Regions from separate parts of the Homo sapiens genome. Here region 1 is linked to region 2. Evidence: fine-mapped expression QTL. A gene starts in region 2. The other region holds a variant in brackets. All regions are shown on one strand. Distances are between the middles of the regions. Region 1 overlaps KNDC1 (kinase non-catalytic C-lobe domain containing 1). Region 2 holds the start of KNDC1 (kinase non-catalytic C-lobe domain containing 1).

What was found.
Region 1: its variant is fine-mapped to the expression of KNDC1 in whole blood (TOPMed, PIP 0.98).

Annotation. Positions count from the first base shown.
Region 1 is chr10:133,191,948-133,194,855 of GRCh38, reverse strand. The region is part of intron 9 of KNDC1 (kinase non-catalytic C-lobe domain containing 1); the gene reads right to left. LOC105378574 (a long non-coding RNA gene) reads left to right here. Exons shown (of 2, transcript XR_946511.3): 2 at 1-369. Among named protein-coding and RNA genes, the nearest start is that of KNDC1, 33 kb to the right of the region's middle. The variant C/T (reference allele first, on the strand shown) is at 1,510.
Region 2 is chr10:133,158,372-133,161,279 of GRCh38, reverse strand. KNDC1 (kinase non-catalytic C-lobe domain containing 1) reads right to left here and starts at 1,061. Exons shown (of 30, transcript NM_152643.8): 1 at 711-1,061. The coding sequence starts at 812. RefSeq lists enhancers at 1-100, 101-690.

The DNA.
Region 1 (2,908 bases), 34 kb before region 2:
CAGACATGACACACTTTTAAGTTTAATCACATCATCCACGTGTTCTCCATCACTTCAGTAAGTCCAGAGAGTCAACAGAACAAGACATTTGTAGCGTTTGCTGCTTTCCCTGGTGTAAGTACTCCCACGTGGCTGACTTCTGGCTACCAATGCAGTGCCCTTGAGTGTGGAGCTGGGAAGAGGCAGCTCCCCTTTACAGAGTCTCCCCCATCCAGGCACAGCAGACGCAGACAGCCCCACGAGCATAGAACAGCCAACTAGAGTCAGATAAGTAGGAAATCACCCATTTTGAGCACTTGTTACACTTTTAAAAAATTAACCTTTTATTTTGTGATAATTGTACATAGTTTTAATAAATAATAGAGCTCATGTACTTTGTACCCAGTTTCCACAACAGTAGCAGCTTGCAAAATACTGATACTGATATAGTCCAGTATCTCAGCCAGCACATCGCCATTGGCACAAAAATCCTGGTTCGCCATATGTTGCATTTTCATTTTCACTCAGTTCTATATGTTTTTAAAATTTCCTTGAAATTTTCTCTTTGACACATAGAGTATTTAGAATGTGTTGTTTCGTTTCCAAGTGTTTGGAAAATTTCCCTTTTATTTTTGTTACTGTGGTCAGAGAACACATTTGTATGACTTAAATTCTTTTAAATTTGTTGAGGTTTGCGTTATGGCTCAGGATTTGGTCTAGCTTGGTGTATAGTCAGTGGGGCAACTGAGAAGAATGTGGATTCTGCTGTTGTTGGGTGGAGTGTCCTTTAAATGTTGATCCAGCCGTGTTGATTGACAGTGTTGTTGAGTTCCTTCATATTTTTACTGGTTTACAGTCTGATTGTTCTATCAAGTGTTCAGAGAGGGGAAACTGGCATCTCCAACTATAATTGTGGATTCATCTGTGTCTCTATTAATTCTATCAGTTTTGCTTCACATATTCTGCAGCTCTGTTATTTGGTGCATATATGTTTAGGATTGCTATGTCTTCTGGGCGGACTGACCCTTTATTGTTATAGAATGTCCCTCTTTATCTCTGGTAATTTTCTTTGCTCTGAAGTACACTTAACCTGATATTAATGCAGTCACTTCTGCTTTCTTTTTATCATTTTCATAATGTATCTTTTTCAACTCTTTTAACTTTCAACCTACTTATATTGTTTTATTTGAAGTGAGTTTCTGGTAGACAGTACATGGTTAGGTCATGTTTCTAAACATTACTCTGTCAATCTTCTTCCTTTCTTCTTCTCTTCCTCCTTCCTTCTCCTTTTTCCTTCTTCTTGTTCTTCTTCCTTCCTTCTTTCTTCCTTCTTCCTCCTTTATTTATTTAAGAGACAGGGTCTCGCTCTTGTCGCCCTGGCTGGAGTGCAATGGCTGTATCTGGGCTCACTGCAGCCTCCACCTCCCAGATTCCAGTGATTCTTCTGCCTCAGCCTCCCAAGTAGCTGGGATTACAGGCACCCACCACCATGCCTGGCAAATTTTTGTATTTTTAGTAGATACAGGGTTT[C/T]GTCATCTTGGCCAGGCTGGTCTCAAACTCCTGACCTCAGGTGATCCACCTGCCTCAGCCTCCCAAAGTGTTGGGATTACAGGCCTGAGCCACTGCACCTAGCCTGTTTCCTTAATTTCTGAAGGATATTTTTGCTGGAAATAGGTTTCTGGGTTGAAAGTTCTTTCAGAACTTAAAAAAATGCTATGCACTTCCTCTACAGTTACTGATGAGAAATCTGATCATCTGAACTGTTTTCCCCCCCCATATGTGTATATATGTAAGCTGCTGTTTCTCTCTCTTTTTGTTTTTTATTTTTATTTTTATTTTTTCGGAGAGGGGAGGGTTAGTATTCAGAGGTTTGACTATGATGTGTCCTGGTGTGGATTTCTTTGCATTGATCATGTTTGGGGTTTTCTCACCTTCTGAAATCTGTAGGCTTATGTGTCTTGCCAAAATTTGGAAGTTTTCAGCCATTATTTCTTTGAGTACTTTTTATGCACCACCCTCCTTCTCTTCTCTTTCCAGGATTTTGATGACATGGATATTAGATCTTTTATTATAGTCCCACAAGCTTCTCAGGCTCTGTTCAGTTCTTTTGGTCTATTTTCTCTTTGTTGTCCAAACTGTGTAATTTCTATTGTCTCCATTTCACCAATTCTTTCCTCTGCCCTCTCTATTCTGCTATTAAGCCCATTCATTGAGTTTTTTTAAAAAATCAGCTCTAAAATTTCCATTAGCTTTTTCTTTTTCTTTTCTATTCCTTGGTTGAAACTTTGTATTTCTTTGCTGAAACTTTTTCATTTGTTTCAAGCGTGTTTGCAATTGCCCAATGACGCATTTTTATGATGGTTGCTTTAAAAATTTTAAAGTCACTTTTAAAATTTCTGTCATCTCCAGGTTGGTATCATTGGTTGCCTGTTTTCATTCAGTTTGACATCTTCCTGATTCTTGGTATCATGAGTCCTTCCCCATTGCTTGATTTTGTCAGCTCTGTCAAAGATCAGATGATTGTAGGCGTGCAGCCTTATTTCTGGGCTCTCTATTCTCTTCCATTGGTCTATGTGTTTTTGTACCAGTGCCATGCTGTTTGGGTTACTGTGGCCTTGTAGTATAGTTTGAAGTTGGGTAACGTGATGCCTCTGGCTTTGTTCTTTTCACTTAAAATTGCTTTGGCTATTTCAGCTCTTTTTTGGTTCCATATGAATTTTAGAATAGTTTCCTCTAATTCTGTGAAAAATGACATTGGTAGTTTGATAACAATAGCATTGACTCTGCGGATTGCTTTGGGCAGTGTAGCTGTTTTACCAACACTGATCCTGCCCATCTGTGAGCATGGGATGTGTTTCCACTTGCTGGTGTGGTCTCCAATTCCTTTCAGCCATGATTTCCAGTTGTCCTTGCAGGACACGCTGCAGGG
Region 2 (2,908 bases):
GGAGCTGCTGTATCCCCTGGGGGCCACCTCTCATGCTTCCGGGCCTGGCTTGTCCACTCCATCCCAGCCAAGCCAGAGCTGAGCTACAGGGTCAGACCCAGCCAAGGTGGCGTCTGGGCAGCCGGTGCTGTAGGGTGGGCGGTCCATGAGCAGAAGCGCCAGGGTATGCAGATGGCAGGCAGAGCCCCTCTGCACCTTGCGGGGTAGGGGGGTCTTGGGTGAAGGCCCGGAAAACCAGAGAGCAGGAAGCAGCTCTCAGTCTCGGGGGGCAGTCATCCAGCGCTCCCCCCACCCCCCGCTCCTGAACCTCAGCTCCGGGGACCTCATCCCCCAGCTCCTGAGCGGCGCCTGATTGGACTCTGCTGCTCTGCACCCCGCTGGCCTCCTGGGGCCCGGCAGGGAGTAAGCAGACCCCCCTCCGTCCTCCTTGCTGCCCCCACACTGTCCCGCCAGGGTTTCCACCAGGAGCTACCGCGCACCAACTTCTGCAGGGGCTGCCCACCCGCCGCCGTCCCGTGCGCATTCGGGGGTGCTGTCCCCTCCGGGTGAAAATCCTAACGCGGGGGCTGAGAACGGCGGTGGGAACCCCTCGGCCATGGAGGGCGCCTGGGGAGGCGGGAGCTCACAGCCCCTCCCGGGTCCTCCCCCCGGGCGCTCTCCGCGGACCCCTCGGCGGCGGAAGGGGCCCCCCAGTGGGGCCGGGGGCTCACCTCGTCCTCGGGGAGGGTGGGCAGCGGCTCGAAGTCGTAGAAGTCCAGGTCTTTGCCGTCCTCCTCGTAAAGATCCGCCGCGGCCGGGTCCATGGCCTGCATCCTGCGGCCGCGCCGCGCACCGCCCCCGGGGCCTCCGGCTGGGCTGGGCTGGGCTCGGCTACGCGCGCCCTGGCTCCATGGAGACGCGCCCGGCCCTCGCCCGCCCCCGCCCGCCCGCCGCTGCCGCAGTGTCTCCAGGGGACGCGGTCAGGGATACGGGGCGGGCCCGGGGGGCGCGGGGGGCGCGGGGTGCGCGGGGGCTGCGCGGCGCTGTCCGGACCCGGCGCCTAGGGAACGTCGCTCCTTCCTGGGGGAGGCACCGGGGGCGGAGCCAGGCGTGTGGCCTCCGCGGGGAGCCACGGGGTCTGCGCCCCACCTGGGCCCCAAGGGTCGAGGGGCGGAGCCGGCGCCCAGGAAAGCTCGGACGGGCAGACCCCCTCGCCGGCTCCCGCCGCCCCCGTCCCACCCCCGCTGCTGCCGGGCGGGGCTGCCGCAGTCCCGGGGTGGCCTCTGCAGCGGCGTTGGGCAGGGCCGGGCGGGGCCCGGGGTGGGGGGCGGGGCCCGGGGTGGGGGGCGGGGCGGTCGCTGGGCCGGGGTCTCTCCTGAGCGAGGGTCTTTCGGAGGCCCGGGGATGTTGGGGGTGGGGCAATAACGCTGCCTCATCCCCACCTGGAGGCATCGGAGAGACCCACTGGGCACCCGACCCTCCCCGGTCCTGGGGGACCCTGGGGGGTCCTGGGGCTCTTGACCTCTTCCTGCCCCAAAGGCCCCCCGGGGCTTTCTTCAGCGCCAGGGTGACCCCGGCCCACGGTAGTGCCGCGGTCAGAAGAGCCAGGATAGCCCCAAGCTCGGCCAAGAGGCAGGGAGGGTGGAGGAGAATCTCACCTTCCCCGGCCACCCCCAGAACTCCCACAGGAGAGAGGGCGGCTTCAGGGCCCGGCTGTCAGCTCCCCGTCCGTGTGGCTGGCCAGGCACACAGTAGGTACTTAATCCATGCTCCTGGCTTGAAGGAGCAGCAGGGCTTTTGACCGCAGAGTGGGAGGGTGCAGTGTGTTCAGGGACGTGAATTCCCAGCACTCTGTCCCCTGGTCGGTCACCCGGGCTGTCACTCTGGCCTGGCAGGGAGTTCAGGGGCTCAGCTCCCCGGGAGCCAGGTGGGCACTGAAGCCGGAGGCTGGGAGTGGGGCAGGTGCTGGGCAGACTCCCTGCGTCCAGCCAGGCAGCCCCACCTTATTGAAAATGCCCACCCTGGGGCCCACCCTGGTCCACCGAGTCAGCAGTCAGGTGCAGCCTCCCCCATCCTTGGGTGTTTGGAAGCTTGGGCAGCAAGCCAAGGTGGAGTGGGCTGGAGCTGGAGAGGAGGAGTCTCACAGAGGGTGGCCTCAGCCAGCTGTCCCTGAGCTCTCTCTCTGTGGGCCCCACAGGGCCTGCAGCGCCCCAGTCCCTGTCTTGGAAGGAGGCGGAAGTGGCAGGCAGACTCTGCTCCAGGAGCCTGATCCCGCTGCACCCTGGTGCTCAGACCTGGACATTGGAGCTGAGCCCCTGGGCTCCTGGGCCCTCTGCTGCAGGGCTGGGGCCGCCTCCTTTGTCAGGTCTGGATGTGCCCCTGACGCCTCTCAGCTGCCACCCAGACTTGTGCCTCCGGGGGAACGCCGGGCTGACGTGACCCCAAAGGGAAGGCACCAGGGACCCCACAAGCACAGGACTTTGTCACCGAGTGCCCAGGTCACCTCACGGGCTTGGGGTGAGGATATAGACACTGAATAGGGGGCAAAGGTAACCCCATAATTTGGGGGGCAGCCATAGGGCAAGCACTCCTGGAAAGACGTGCATGCGGTTGGTAAAATGCAGAACTCACAGGCTCCTGGAGTCGGCCGTGTCAGCTTCGGCTGTTGCGGCCTAAAACCCCTCAGCAGGCATTTCCCACACCTGGGTCACTCAGCGCTGCTGCTGCTCAGGGCTGGGCACGTGGGGAGGGGCCTCGGGCAGGGGCCGCAGGCTCTTTCTTTTACGCACCTGCTGCTTTCCTTTAAAGATTTGTGGGCTTTGGTCTCTGTTGTTCTGGGGAGTGGTGGGAACTTCCAGACGTTTTGCGAGTTGTCCCGGGCGCCCGCACACTCGCCTGCAGTGATAAAGCTTTGACCCAAGTGGAGGGT